Linked DNA regions of Homo sapiens: region 2 is linked to region 1. Evidence: fine-mapped expression QTL. Tissue or cell type: whole blood. Region 1 holds a variant in brackets; the other region holds the start of a gene. All regions are shown on one strand. Distances are between the middles of the regions.

Region 1 (8,108 bases):
GTGTTTGCTTTAATTGAACAAGCATTTATGACTTCCCTGCCTCCTCTGAGGGCTTAGCATTTGCTGCAAGTTCCAAATCACTCTTACCTAATACTATGAAAGAGAATTTGATGAGCTGCCCAAAGAAGTATAATAGATTATGAATATGAGTGCTCAGAGACCAGTTTTGTTCAAGCAAACAGGGAAGACATTCAGGAGAATACGGGACCTGATTTGAGTCTTAGAATATAAGATGTAGAGACGGTGTAGGGGAATTGGCCTACAAAGGAGCTGTAGTGTGCGTGAGTGGAGACGCAGATGGTCCCCGATTTACTATGGTTCAACTTCAGAGGTTTTGACGTTAGGATGGTGCAAAAGTTATAAGCATTCAGTATGCTTCTCAATTTACAATGGGGCTACATCAGGATAAACCAATTATAAGTTGAAAATATCAGTTTGTTCAGACTTAATCCCACCTTAAGTCAAGGAGTGCCTGTATTTGATATGGAAGTCAGGAGAATGCTACATTAATACTTCTTCTGCATGATCCTCAGACCATCACCTGAGTATCACAATGAAAGCACCCATTCTCCATTTCTTCTCTCCCATTCACCTATACATTCCTGTTCCCAGAGGGAACCACTTTCAAATCTTCGCCATTTATTATAGTATTCACTTTCATTTTCCTAAAGGATATGATTATACTGCCATGTTTTTGTTTTTTGACTTTAAATATTATTTACTACAATAGATGATAAAGATTTAGCCATCTTACAATTCACACCTCATCCACACACAATTCTTCTATACCCCACTCCTAATGTAGTTATAATAGCATCATATTTGGTTAAGTCAATATTCAAAGATTATATGTTTTGACTATGTAAATGTTATTTACAGCTGAGTTATGTATGGGTTTCATGGTTACATTTTCTTTCCCCGCCCCCTGCATTTTTTTTTTTTTTTTGAGAGAGAGTTTCCCTCTTGTTGCCCAGGCTGGAGTGCAATGACGTGATCTCAGCTCAACACAACCTCCGCCTCTGTGGTTCAAGCGATTCTCCTGCCTCAGCCTCCCGAGTAGCTGGGATTACAGGCATGTGCCACCATGCCCAGCTAATTTTGTATTTTTAGTAGAGACAGGGTTTCTCCATGTTGGTCAGGCTGGTTTCGAACTCCTGACCTCAGATGATCCACCTGCCTCAGCCTCCCAAAGTGCTAGGATTACAGGTGTGAGCTATTGCACCTGGCCTCTTTCCTTTTCTTTAACCACCCCCCTACCCTGGAGTTAATGATTACATTTTTTTGTTTGCTTAGTATTCTTTTGTAATATCACCAGTTTATCCCCAAATTCTGACACAGCTGTCAAACTTTTGTTGGTACAATTATTTATAAATATTAAATATTCTATAAGCTTCTTTTTAATCCTTCCTTCCTTTCTCTTTCTCTTTTCTCTTCTCTTTTCTTCTTCCTTCCTTCCTTCCTTCCTTCCTTCCTTCCTTCCTCTCTCTCTCTCTCTTTCTTTCGAGACAGAATCTCACTCTGTCGCACAGGCTGGAGTGCAGTGGCATGGTCTTGGCTCACTGTAACCTCTGCCTCCCTACCTCAAGCAATTCTCCCACCTCCGCCTCCTAAGTCGCTGGGACTACAGGTGTGTGCCACCACACCTGGCTAATTTTTGTATTTTCAGTAGAGACAGGGTTTTGTCACATTGGCCGGGCTGGTCTTGAACTCCTGACCTCAAGCGATCCGCCCGCTTTGGCCTCCCAAAGTGCTGGGATTACAGGCATGAGCCACCACGCCTGGCCTATAAGCTTCATTTTGGAGGGGAGTCTCTGGGGGCGCTGTCTCTCCTGAACTGGTGATCTCTAACCCTACATTAAACAAGTGTTCTCCTAGAACTTCATTTCATCATCATCTTAGGAATTTCCTTTGCTCCTCTGTGAATCTTGTTCCTTTTTCCCTCACACTGCTTCTTTCTTAGTTTACATCTCCTTGCTTTTGTGGGACATACCAGAACGTGGTTTTTAGAGAGAGAGGGCACATGGGAGGAGGCAGCAGGGTGAAGGTGGGAATGGATGGCTCAGAGGAAACATGCCATATAAGGAAATGTGAAGTTATCACCTGACAGTAATGCAAGGACACCGTGTTGTGTGCTCTTGGAGGTTCTTCCTTCAGAGACAATAAATTTCAACTATACTGGATTTGAAAGGTAAAGCCTTTAAGATAGAGCTTTATATTTTTTGGTGTGCATAACAGGCTTGGATATCTCCTGGAAGACACACTATTCCTCCCCCAAGTACCAAAACACAATCATTAAAGAAGCTGTACTTCACCACATTGACAGAAGAGGGCACCATTAAATGAAGAATCTTGTAAATTAGCCCACATCCACAAAAAGAATTACAAAAAATGGAATAAATCTATGCAAAGCTTCTTAAAGAAAGAGACTCAACACACCTCAAGTGATAAAAATTTTCCACCACTCCAAGGGAGGTAAATACAAAAATGACCATGAAGCAGAGGAAAACTGCAATGCTACACTCCAGACTCAAATAACCTCAAACAAGTATAGACATGTGAAAAGCTATACATATATATACATATATGTGTATATATGTATATATATGTATATATGTGTGTATATATGTATATATTTGAACCTCCCAGGTTCAAACATAAATTTTAGAACTATATTTATTTTTTGAACCTCCCAGGTTCAAGAGATTCTCCTGCCTTAGCCTCCCAAGTAGCTGGGATTACAGGTGGGCGCCATCACACCCAGGGAATTTTTGTATTTTTAGTAGAGACGGGGTTTCACCATGTTGTCCAGACTGGTCTCAAACTCCTAACCTCAAGTGATCCACCTGTCTTGGCCTCCCAGAGTGCTGGGATTACAGGCATGAGCCACTGCGCCTGGCCTGAAAAACTATCTTTAATCAGAAATTAAAATATAAATGGATTTAGAAAAAAATGGGAAGTAATGAACAGTGTGTTGATTGAACTCAGAAAGAAAATAAAAGAAAAAGAAAAATAATCTTAGGATTGAAACATAAATTTTAAGAGGGTACTTATATTGGTTTCCTAGGGCTATCTTAACAGATTACTATAAACTGAGAGCTTGAAACAATAGGAATTTATTTTCCCACAGTTCTGGAGGCCAGAGGTCTCAAATCAAGGGGCTGGCAGGGCTTGTTTCTTCCCGAGGCTCTGAGGGAAGGGTCTGCTCTATCTCTCCTTCATAGCTTCTGGGGGCTGCCAGCAATCCTTGTTGTTCTTTGGTTTATAGATGCGTCACTCTAATCTCCACCTTCCTTCCCACATTACCATCGTTTCTATGTGTCTTCTCTCCTTCTATTCTAAGGATACTTGGAATTGGAATTAGGGCTCAACCAGAAAACCTAGGATGATTTTATCTTGAGATACTTAATTACACCTGCAAAGACCCTTTTTCCAAATAAGATCATATTCCCAGGTTCTGAGTAGACATTTTTGGGGTGTGGGGGTGGGCGTGGTCATCATCACCTCGCTATAGCACCCAAAGGAGAATGTACTCAGATGGAAATTTAATATGGGCACTGAACAAAGGCAAACAAGCAAGAAAATGAAATGAAATAAAGAAGTGAAATGGGTCAGGAAGAAAGTGATTGACAGGGAAGACAGTCCAAAGCAACACTGGTATAACTGGAGTACATGAAGAAGAAATAGCAAACAATGTAACTATCATTTAAAACTATAATTGAACTGTTGAACTGGGTGACAGGGTGAGACCCTGTCCCTAAAAAAACAAAAACAGAACTGTAATAGAAGAAGAAAGCTTTCCAGGAGTAAATACAGGTTTAACTTTAAAAATGCCCAAACTATTCCCTATTTTTTATTCCCACCAGCAATGTATGAGAATTTCAGTTGCTTTGCATCCTTGACAGCACTTGCTATTGTCAACTGTATTCTTTTGCTTTTTTTTTTGTTTATTCATTCTTATAGGTCAATAGTGGTATTTTACTGTAGCTTTATTTTGTATATCCTAAAAATGATGTTAATTGCATATCACTATGAACCTCTTTTAATGTGCTTATTTGCCAACTACATATCATCTATGATGAAGCGTCTGTTCAAATTCTTTGCCTGTTTTATAAATTGTTGTTTCCTTATTATTGAACTTTGATAGTTCTTTTTATAATCTGGATATAAGGCTCTTATTTGATATATGTAGTATACAGAGATATCTAGAGAGAGCAAATATTCTGCTTCTGATGTTACTTTTCATTCTCTTAATGTCTTAAAGAGAAATGATTTTAAATTTAATAAAGTCCAACTTATCAAGTTTTTAATTTTATGAATTGTGTTTTTGTTGTCATATTTAAGACACCTCTGCCTCACCCAAACTTAAGAATATTTCTTTTATGCTGTCTTCTAGAAGCTTTATACCATTAGATTTTACATTTAGGTCTATGATCCCATTAGAGTTTATTTTTGTATATGGTACAAGATATGGATCAAGGTGGGTTTTTTTTTTAACATGTAGATGTGCATAATTTGTTGTAAAGACTATCCTTTGTCCACTGAATTGCCTTTGCACCTTTGTCAAAAGTTCATTGATCCTCTATGCATCGATCTATTTTTTAAATTTCCTGTCTTGTTTCTTCATTCTACTTGTCTATCTTACTTCACCAAGCCTACATTAGCTCAATTACTATAGCTTTACCATAAGTGTTAAAATCAGTTAGGGCCCAGTGTGGTGGCTCATGTCTGTAATTCTAGCATTTTGGGAGGCCAAGGCAGAAGGATCACTTGAGCCCAGGAGTTTGAGATCCACCTGGGCAACATAGGGAGACCTCATCTCTACAAAAAATTTTAAAAATTAAAAAAACTAAAATCAGTTAGTATGAACCCTCCAAATTTGTTGCTTTTTTCAAAATTATTT[C/A]GGGTATTCTACATTCTTTGCATTTCCACATAAATTTTAGAATCAACTTATTTCTACAGGAAAGCCTATTATGTTTCTGATTGGAATTGTGTTAAATCTATAGGTCAATTTGAAGAAAAATGACATTTTACCACTACTGAGTTCTCCAATCTATGAATACAGTATATCTCTCCATTTATTTAAGGCTTTGCTTTCTTTCAGCAGTGTTTTGCAGTTTTCAGCATACAATCCTTTGCATATTTTTGTTAGATTTATTCTTAAGTATTTTGTTTTTTGATGTATTGTAAATGGTACTATGGTAGTATTTTAAAATTTTTAATTTCCAATCATTTATTTTTATAATACTGAAATTCAATTGTGTTTTGAATATTAGCCATATATATTGTGACTTGCTAACCTCACCTGTTGGTTCTAGGATCTATTTTATAGAATATTTGGGGTTTTTATATCTAGACAATAATTTCATTAATGCATAGAAACAAATACTGGAAGAAAAGGTGAGGCAAATTCATTTAAAAAATGGGTATAGAGAAAGGATTTCTAATTATGACTCAGAATCTCGATATAGTAAAAACAATTTGATAAATTTTGTTGCATAAAAAACCTTTTGTGTGGGAAAATACCATAAACAAAGTAAAAATACAACGGAGAAATTTGAAGAAAAAATTTGCAACATACATCAGAAAGGGCTAATATCCCTAATATATAAAGAACTCTTAAAAATGGAGAGGAAAAAGTCCAAAAATATGACATGAAAATGGGCTTAAAACATGAACAGACCACACACACACAAACACGATATAAAAATGGCCCTTACACATATGAAAAGGTGTTCAACCTCACTCAAACAAATGAATGCAAATTAAGACTATACTGAGATACCGTTTCTCACCTACCAGATGGGGAAAATTAGATAGTGTGATGCCATTCTGATGAAAGGCTGTGAGAAGAGAAGACAGCTGTGAGGGGTTTTCAGCACTCGGCTCTCCAGTTCATCCTTCTACATGAGTTTCAGTGATGATCAAGGAAGATACGTGAGGAGAAGAGAGTGCCTGTGCTGTTTGGTGCAGACTTAGAAAGGATGTTGGGAACAAAGCACTGGGGTGTTCTGGAGATGTTATCTGAGTTCCAAAGAGTGGATTTAATACATTTTTTAAAAATTTTCTAATTCCACAGGTTATTGGGGAACAGGTGGTGTTTGGTTACATAAGTTAAGTTCTTTAGTGGTAATTTGTGAGATTTTCGGTTCACCCATCACCCAAGCAGTATACACTGCACCCAGTTTGTAGTCTTTTATTCCTCACTCCCTTCCCACCCTTTCCCCCTGAGTCCCAAAGTCCATTGTGTCATTCTTATGCCTTTGCATCCTCATACTTAGCTCCCACTTATGAGTGAGAACATACAATATTTGATTTTCCATTCCTGAGTTACTTCACTTAGAATAATAGTCTCCAATCTCATCCAGGTTTCTGCGAATGCCATTAATTAATTCCTTTTTATGGCTGAGTAGTATTCCATCATCCATCTATCATCTATCTATCTATCTATCTATCTATCTATCTATCTATCTATCTATCTATAAAAAACAGTTTCTTCATCCACTCATTGATTGATGGGCATTTGGGTTGGTTCCACATTTTTGCAATTACGAAATGTGCTGCTATAAACATGTGTGTGCAGGTATCTTTTTCGTATAATGACTTTTTTTCCTCTGGGTAGATACCCCGTAGTGGGATTGCTGGATCAAATGTAGACCTATACTGAACATACCCATTTACATCATCCTACAATTTCAAGTATATTTTCTCATATGATATGTGGCAAACAAAAGACATCTGTATCTTTTGATATGTGCTCTCTGTTAAGGTTGGTGCTGGTGCTTGAGAGTGACCTAAATTTTATGGGTCCCATCAAATGGAGGAAAAATTCTCTATAATTGACCTCAGATTTCATTAGGTGACAGATGGCCTATGCTCAGAACATAATCTATTAGAATCAGAAAACTACCTATTGTCTTGGATATTTATGGCAAATTATTAAAATGTTTTCAATCATCAATGCTAGCGTGTAGTCACAGCCCTTGGTGCAGCCTAAAGACAGATGAGCCCAAACCCCCACTCAGAAACAGACCATACCAAGGTAGAGAGGTTCAGCCAACCCACCCAGCTCAACTCAGCTCAGAGTCAGACCTCTGACACTCTAAAGTAGCATTTTATGAAAACCTTGTTTTATTGCCTCAGTTTATGAAGCTGTTTTCAATCTCATTCAAGCCTTGTAACTCAGTGAGGAAGTCGGCTGTCTGATATATCCAGGTGAAATACAATAATTAAGGCCCAGAGAGGTTCTCTACCAGTTGTCCAACATCATAAAACTGATGGGAAGAGCCATAACTTCAAGCTACCCGAATCCTAGTCCTTTGCTTTTTGTTTCTATTGTGGAAGAATTCTTCCCAGAAACAGGATCACTCCCACAAGCAGGGATTCCATTATTTCAAAATTGAGTCAGGAATCTTAAGATTATGGGAGTAAAGCCTTGTTCAATTAACTAGACTCAAGATACAGAAACCAAGATGGGTGTGGTGGCTCATGGCTGGAATTCCAGCACTTTGAGAGGCCAAGGTGGAAGGACTGCTTGAGGCTAGGAGTTGGAGACCAGCCTGGGCAACACAGTGAGGCCCTGTCTCTATAAAAAGTAAAAAATTAGCTGGGCATGGTGGTGCACACCTGTTATCCTAGCTACTCAGGAGGATGAGGTGGGAGAATCATTTGAGCCCAGAAGTTCAAGGCTGCAGTGAGCTAGGATCACATCACTGCACTCCAACCTGGGCGACAGAGCAAGACTGTCTCAAAAAAAAAAAAAAAAAGAAAAGAATAGAAACCAATACTCGATTTTATATATGGGCTCCTCCTTCCTCTTCCATCATAGCTTTCCCAGTATGATTCCCTTAATTTTCTTAACCCTAGTACAACCATCTCGTGATGCACAGACCAGATTTTTCCTCCACTGTTCCACCACTGGGACACGTTGTCTTAGGTCTATACAACATTGATCTAATCCCTGAAGATGAAGGGCCCACTTAAAAAAATTATCTATGTACTAAAAATGTATCTATGTCCGAGGCCTTCTTTGTACAGTCATCACTTGTTATTTGCCAGGGATTGGTTCTAGGACTTCTACAGATACTAAAACCACAGATGCTCAAGTCCTT
Region 2 (8,108 bases), 180 kb before region 1:
TGGAGTCTCTTTTATTTTACTTTTTAATATTTATTTATTTATTTACTTATTTTTGAGAGAGAGTCTTGCTCTGTTTGCCCAGGCTGGAGTGCAGTGGCGTGATCTTGGCTCACTGCAACCTCTGCCTTCCGGGTTCAAGCAATTCTCCTGCCTCAGCCTCCCGAGTACCTGGGACTACAGGTGACTGCCACCACGCCCAACTAATTTTTTGTATTTTTAGTAGAGATGAAGTTTCACCATGTTGACCAGGCTAGTCTCGAACTCCCGACCTCAGGTGATCTGCCCGTCTCAATCTCCCAAAATGCTGGGATTACAGGTGTGAGCCACCATGCCTGGTCCGGGTCTCTTTTATAAGGGCGCTAGTTCCATTTGTGAGGGCTCTGCCCTCATAACCTAATCACCTCCTCCAGATGCCCCACCTCCAAATACCATCATCTTGGGGGTTAGGAATTCATTGTACGAATTTTGGGGGGATACAACATGCAGACCATAGCAGGAAGCTGTGGGTGGAGGGCCCAGAACTGAGATACTGTCCAGAGGGAAAGTGGGTATCTGTACTTCTCAAAAAAACCAAAACCAACCTGTCAAGGCAGGGACCCCAGAGAAAATGGGAGGAGAAGCCTCACATGTATAGACTGGGAGGACAGGATCATCTCCAAAGTAATGCCCCAGCCTCTGCCTCTCACTTATAGGTCAGAGGGTCCTAAGTGATAAGAGAGAACCTTGGTGGAGGCTGCTCCACAATGGCCCCCATCCTGGAATTTTACCAGGAGCACCCTTGCTTGCCCACTCATCTGTCTCAGACGCCCAGGAAATTTTTGCACGTGTCATATCATCTGTGCTTATCTCAGTGTTGAGATAACCTTTTCCCTTGTTTTCTCCTTAATTTGGTTTTCCAGTTCTCTGCAAAAGAGAACTGCGGAGTGGGGACTGGACAACCTCTGAAAGAGCGCCTTCTGCTTTTGTGGAGTGCAGTGGCGTGATCTCGGCTCACTGTAAGCTCCGCCTCCTGGGTTCACACCATTCTCCGGCCTCAGCCTCCTGAGTGGCTGGGACTACAGGCGCCCGTCATCGCGTGCCCGCCTAATTTTGTTTTTGTATTTTTAGTAGAGATGGAGTTTCACCATGTTAGCCAGGATGGTCTTGATCTCCTGACCTGTGATCCGCCCGCCTCGGCCTCCCAAGGTGCTGGGATTACAGGCGTGAGCCACCACGCCCAGCCCCGGTTAATTTGTTTTGTGTTTTTAGTAGAGACAAGGTTCCACTGTGCTAGCCAAGATGGTCTTGGTCTCCTGACCTCATGATCCGCCCGCCTAGGCCTCCCAAAGTGCTGGGATTACAGGCGTGAACCACCGCACCAGGCTGTTCTTAGTTCTTAAGTAATGTTGACATATGGGTGATGATGAAGGAGATGATTAAAGCTTTCAAAGAAAGTGGAAGAATGTGTCAAATTCTCTCTTCACTTCCTAGATGACTTCAGTTTCCTAATCCATAAAATAGGACTAAGACCATTACTTATCTGATGAAAAGGAGAGACAATGTAATAAATAAGGTGCTTTGAATCCTGTATTAGTCCATTGTCACACTACTGAGAAAATTATAAATTACCTGAGACTGGGTAATTTATAAACAAAAGAGGTTTAATTGACTCACAGTTCCATATGGCTGGGGAGGCCTCAGGAAACTTATAATCATGGTGGAAGGTGAAGGGGAAGCAGGGCACATCTTACATGGCGGCAGGTGAGAGAGAGAATGCAGGGGAAATGCCAGACACTTATCAAACAACCAGATCCCGTGAGAGCTCCCTATCACAAAAACATCATGGGGGAAACCGCCCCCCACGATCCAATCACCTCCCAGGAGGTCCCTCCCCTGACACATGTGGATTACAATTCAAGATGAGATTTTTGGGTGGGGACACAGAGCCAAACCATGTCAGATCTCCAAATGGTAGCTATTATTTAGATGTCCTTTTCTTCTGTCTTGTTACAGTCACTGACACAGTTCAGGCTCTTATTATATCTCCATTGATGTCAGCTTCCAATCTAGTCTCTTGCATTCTCTGCTTCTGCCATCTATTTTCCAGTGTGGTGCCAGAGGAATCCTTGTAAAATACAAAGATGCATGTCATGCTACTGCACAGAATCTTTTAATAGCCTCCTTTTTTTTTTTCCCTTTTTCGAATAGGGCCTAAAATCTTCAATGTAGCATCCTTCCAGAAATAGTCTTCTGAACTTGGCTGCTTCTATTCATTCACGCATACATACATTTTACTGTCAGGAGCACCTTCTATATGCCAAACACTAAGCTACGTGTTTCACGTAGGTCATTTCACAGGATCCTGAAAACAACGCTTTCCTTAATATCTCCATTTTGCAGAAGAGGAAAGGGAGGCTCACAGGATGTGGAACTCACCCAAGAAGGCACAGCGAGTTGGTCATAAAGATTTGAATTCACTCTGGCTGGCACTCCCTTCAATTGGAGCTCTTTGTACTGAGCAAAAATGCCTCAGGGGCAGCAGGGAAGGGAATGACAGTATCAGCAGAAGGGAGCCAGGATCAGGACAGGGAGGAAGCAGTGTTTGGAAGAAGGGTGCTGGGGACAGGGTGCGGATGTAACTTCCCTTTCCAAGGTTGGTGATGTGGGGTAGGCACCTCATTTGGAGACAGAACTCTGGGCCTGGGCTTCAGGCACTTTAAGTGTGCACTGGACTTTGTGTTCCCAGAGGACCCCCAAACCTTCCAGTATCTCCTTCCTTTCCCCTTTCCCACCCAGCACACAGCCTGGTGCCTAGTGTGCACTCAGTAGACAACTGGGATATGACTATTGCCTCTGGTAGTCACATCCTCTCTTTGGGCTATGGGAGGCTGGACTGGAGGCCTTAAAGGCCCCTTCCGCCCTCCTGTTGGGCAGTTTTTCTTTCTTAGGGAAATCGCCTTGGGGCTATCGGGGATGGTCAGTACGCAGCTTGGTTAATCCTCTTTCCTTCCCCAGCAGCCCCACCGTCGTCCGGGTGAAAAGAAAGAACCTCGCTCCCTTCACCATCCAGGCTGAGGCTTCAGTCTTTCAGCCTGCAGCTTGGGGTGGAAGCCTCTGGGTGCAGGGGTTCGAGGACGCTCCTCTCCTTCTGTATTTGCCATTTGAGAGCGCCCAGTAGGAGTCATGCCTCAATGTTAGGAGGTTAATGCCAAACGCAGTGAAAGATTTTGTTCTTTCCTATTCTAGATAAGAGCAACACGAGTCTTCGGAGAGGTTAAGCGACTTCCTCAGGGTCTCGCAGTCAGCCGGTAGCAGAGACCGGGTGTACAGCACCCGCATGTTAGGACCAAAAGCCGGACACTGCTGGATTGACCCCTCGCGGCCAAGCGGGGAAGAGGCATTTAGGGGTCCTTGCGCAGCCGCGTGGCCCCTCCCACTCGGCCCTCGATCCACCCTCCTTGAGAGCAGGCAGGATTCTAGCATCACCCAGTGCCTTCATCAAGAGTCTTTAACCCCAAGCCCGCTCGCTAGCGACCTCCAGGCCGGTTTGGGGCGCGGTGTGGCCGGTGGCGAGAGGTGGAGTGGGGGCGGAGACCGACCCAGTCTTCGCAACTCTATTTGCATACGGAGGCGACTCGCTTCCTTCCCGCCCCTCCGCCGCGCTCTTCTTCCTTCCTTCTCCAGTCCCTTCCACTGTGCGTCTTCTGTCCCCCGTTCTTCCCCAGCGGACCCCTCTTTCGAGACTCCCTAGTGGGGTCCCCAGCTCCCGGGCGATCCTGCCCTTGCCGAGCGCGTTTTCTGGAGTCACCTGGGGGAGGGGAGTCCTGGGCAGGGCCGGGCTGGGGAAGACGCCTGGGGCACTGCCCGGCGTTAACAAAGGGAGCCGATACCGACCGGCGTGGGCGCGGAGCGGGCGGCCGCCACCGAGCGTGCTGAGCAACCGCAGCCTCCGCGGCCGAGAGTGCAGCGAGTGAGTAGGGGGTGCGGTGGGCGGCGGCGCGGCCCGGGCTATCCCGGGAGGAGTGTGATGCAAAGGGGCGCGGGAGGATAGCGGAGGCGCGGGGCCCGCGGCGCGCGTAGGGCGCAGGGAATCTCTCTCCAGCTCCGCCTCAGCTGCCTTGGCTCCGGGGCTGGCCGCCTTTTGGTTGGGGGTGTGTGCATTTTTGTCAGGGCCAAAGGGCCACCCTGGCTTCTCTCTGGCTCCGCGAGCCTGCGGATCCACAACAAACCCACGTGCGCACAGCCCCGGGGAACACGGATTTCTCCACGGCACCGTCAGTATGGGGTGGGGTGGCGTGGGGGCATTGCGCCTTGCAGAGTCTGGGTTTACGGATCGACAAATTGAGGCCCGCGGCAGCGGAGGGGGCACAGGCACCATAACAAACGCACGTGCGCCCTGCCCGGAGAGCTGGACGCACTGCATACCCTTAGGGGCCGCCCTGCGGTGCCGGGCCATTGTCTCAGCCTCGGGGGAGGGAGTGGCTCTAGAGGCGCCACTTGCTGGAAGAGGGCGAGAGAGACATTTAAAAGGTACCGCTTGGGCATCAGACTAAACTGCCAGACTTAAAAAGGGAAACCAAAACAAGAAAGCAGCTACAAAAAGGTTACTCCAGGCTGAGTCGGTCCCCGGCCGTGGCGCATTCTTTTGGGTGAAGTGGACCACCCCTCACCTTCACCTCCTGGAGGTCTCTTAGAGATGTGGGTTGGGTTAAGGGTCTAAGGGTGCCCCTCAAAAAAAGAGAGTGCTGGGTGCACTATTGTCCCCGCACTCCGGCGATTGCCTCTGTGGGGATATTTTGGTCGCCTCCTCAGCCTGCGGGAAGAATGTACGAGTCGCCCAGTGCGGTCTTGCTCTTTGCCTCTGAGGCCCGTGTCCGTGTGCCCAGACACCCCAGATGTCACTAGCCCCTTTTGGCTTGTTAATGCATTTTCGCAAGCAAGGCCAGCCGAGACCTCGTATTCTAGCTGGGGACGTACAATTTTCAGTTCTGAGTTTATTTGAAAGAAATTCCGAGGTCCGGAAAAAGAGAACTCTTGTTTGTTTTGCTTTTTCTTTGCTTACATATGCTCAGCTCAGCTTTGCAGATGTTAATCGGACACGATCTGCAGCGGGGAGATGGTTTCGCGGTGAATTGGTCTCTGAGGCGATGGTGTTGGTGCAGGTTGTGGGCGTGCAGTGTGAGCAGGAATGGAGGCGCCGCCGCCCCAGTGTGTGCCTGCTGAGCGGGCGGGCTGCTGCCTCACCTTGGCTAGTGTGGCTGAAGATTAACCTGTCCCCGGGGGGGGAACTGGAGAGCCTCCAATCCTATTCCGCTGTTATTGAAAAGGTCTAGAGAGCATCTAGGGAGCCTTCTCATTTTACAGGCAGGAAGCTGAGGCCGGAGAGTTCAGCCACTTGTCCAAGTTTAAACCGGGTGAAACGGGCCACAGAGAGAACACTTGAGTGTGGGTCTCCCAACTCCCACTGCATCGCTCAGCGGGCAACTAAAGGCAAAACCGGGATTCTGTGATTGGCCTAAAAGGCAGTGGCCTTAGGCAGAATAGGGTGAAACAAAGAGTAATTCAAATAGAAAGCTGCACCCTTCCATTATCCCTTTCAAGAATTCTTTATTCTGTTGAGAAAAAATAGATTTAGTAATTCCTTACTCTCCTTCAAGCCTTTCAAAAGCTTAGTTATTTTTCTCTCCTGGCTGCCCCTTCCCCTCAAATTGGAATAAGGCCAGCTACGGAGACTCAGATGTTTTGCCTCTCATCCTTGTGCCAGGAGGCCTTTGTTTGGGCAAAAGCATGGGCTGTTGACATCAGCCCCACGGGGAAGAAAGTGTGTCTTAGCAAGCTACTCCTGAGCCACTTGTGGGAGAACAAAGCATTGTTTTCACTGATCTTATTAAAGTTACTTTTTTTTTAACGAGAGTCCCATGGAAGTAGCTGCTTATTTTTGTATTTGGCAGAGAAGTAGGAAAACCAAAAAAACACTGAGAAGCCGGATTTCCCCAAAGTTAACATGTTGTTTTGCACTGTGCCTGTTATCTCCTAGTTACACTTGTTTCTTTTCCTTAGAGTTTCCAGCGTGTTTCACTTTCAATGTGATTCTGGTAGCAACAGGAGGCAGCTGGATGCCTAGGCAGATAGGGTCAGGTACCCGGTGAAACCCCCACCTCCAGGCCAAAGACAGTTTAAAGCCTGAAAGCCAAGCTACGAGTTAAATCCTCAGACCAGAGTGAGAACTTGTTTGGCGTGCTTTCCCCTAATTGATTCCTACATTTCGCCTGTTTTACATATACCCACTTTTTCCTAATTGGTTTTCTACGCTGCCGTGCCCACCTTTGAGTGGTGTCTTTGCTTTCATCTTTTTTGCATACTCACAAACCGGTCAGCATGCACTCCCTATTCTGAGTCCATAAAAGGCCCCTGACCCAGCCACATTGGGGAACTTTTCCGTCTTCAGGTAGGGGACCAACCCGGTGTCCCCTCTCTGCTGAAAGCTGTTTTCAACACTCAATAAAATTCTTATCTGCCTTCCTCTCCCTTCAATGTCCAGTGTATCCTCATTATCCTTTGGTGTGGTGCACGAGCTCGGAACCACCGAACGCGGGTACAAGCTATAATACAGTGAGCTGGGACACACCTGCATGGCCGAGCGAGCACAGGTGGGGCATTGCTGGCCCGAGGACCAAGAAGAAAAATCCTACATCAATTCCTCTTGGCACTGCAGTATAGTTTTCTCACCAGGACGCTGACCCTGTAAGGAACTTCAGAAATCATGTGACTGGACCCTTTTACTTTCCAGATGGGAAAAGTGAGGCCTAGAGAAGAGAAATTGCTTGCCTAATGATACACAACAATGCGTGGTCTACTTTTAGTGCACCTTTTTGCGTAAAAGGGAAATGGTTGCATCAAACCAGTAGTTGTTGGTACTCCAGAGAAAAGCCAAAGTTATGGTTGTTATAACAACACCCTTTAAGTCAGAGAACCAATTCCTTATGGATTTAAATAGGTTTGGTTATTAAGCAAAGCCAGGGATCCCAGTAGTAGGTATGCTGAATAGTGCAATTATCTCTGGGGATCAGCTTTCTTTAGTGTTTGCTGAACGGTTCACTTTACTCTTGTGCTGGGTTCCTCCATGTCTCTGTCTTGTGCTTCCCCATTTAGGGGCTGCTTTGTATGAAATCATAAGGCAAGAGGCAGTGAGAAGACAGAAGAGAGAGGCGCCACTTAGCTGTTCATGCTACTTAACCTCTTGGGCTCCAGTTTCCTTCTTTGTACAGTGAGGGTTCTCCTTGCCCAGTCTCTGCACAGGCTGTTCCAGCGGAGCGGAAGATGCTCAGGCCATAGGAGGGGTTTGGGGTCATCTTCCTGTCTCTAGTATTACTTTAAAACCAGCAGGCTGGGCCAGGTGTGGTGGCTCACTCCAGTAATCACAGCACTTCAGGAGGCCGAGGAGGGAAGAGTTCGAATTCCTTGAGCTCAGGAGTTTGAGACCAGCCTGAGCAACATAGTGAGACTACCTCCCCCACCGCCATCTCTACAAAAAATAAAAGAACAAAATTAGCTGGGCATGGTGGCGTACTCCTGTGGTCCCAGCTACCTGGGAGGCTGAGACAGGAGAATCGCTGGAGCCTGGGAGGTGGAGGTTGCAGTGAGCCGCGATCTCACCACTGTACTCCAGCCTGGGGACATAGCGAGACCCTGTCTCAAAAACAGAAAATAAAACAAAACAACAACAACAGAAAACCAGCAGGCTGCCTCTGCGTTGTGTAAAGTGAGGGGAGTAAGGCGTATGAATCTCCTGGGGTTGTTGAGGGCATTAAGTCACATGATGCATTCTTATGACTGGTCAGACCTCTTGGCAGGCTTGAGTGCTTACCAGCTTTTAAAAAATTTTATTTATTTATGTATTTATTTATTTATTTATTTTTTCAGATGGCGTCTCGCTCTGTCACCCAGGCTGGAGTGCAGTGGTGCAATCTCGGCTCACTGCAAGCTCCGCCTCCCGGGTTCACGCCATTCTCCTGCCTCAGCCTCCCGAGTAGCTGGGACTACAGGTGCCCGCCACCACGCCCGGCTAATTTTTGTATGTTTAGTAAAGACGGGGTTTCACCTTGTTAGCCAGGATGGTCTCGATCAAA

What was found. PIP is the estimated chance that this variant, and not a neighbour inherited with it, causes the effect.
Region 2: ST6GAL1 starts here. The variant in region 1 is fine-mapped to the expression of ST6GAL1 in whole blood (TOPMed, PIP above 0.99).

The regions. Positions count from the first base shown.
Region 1 is chr3:187,111,074-187,119,181 of GRCh38, forward strand. No RefSeq gene overlaps it. Among named protein-coding and RNA genes, the nearest start is that of RPL39L, 24 kb to the right of the region's middle. The variant C/A (reference allele first, on the strand shown) is at 4,901.
Region 2 is chr3:186,926,886-186,934,993 of GRCh38, forward strand. ST6GAL1 (ST6 beta-galactoside alpha-2,6-sialyltransferase 1) reads left to right here and starts at 3,641. Exons shown (of 8, transcript NM_173216.2): 1 at 3,641-3,949. RefSeq lists enhancers at 3,256-3,864, 5,958-6,007, 6,028-6,087 and silencers at 3,552-3,631, 3,872-4,061.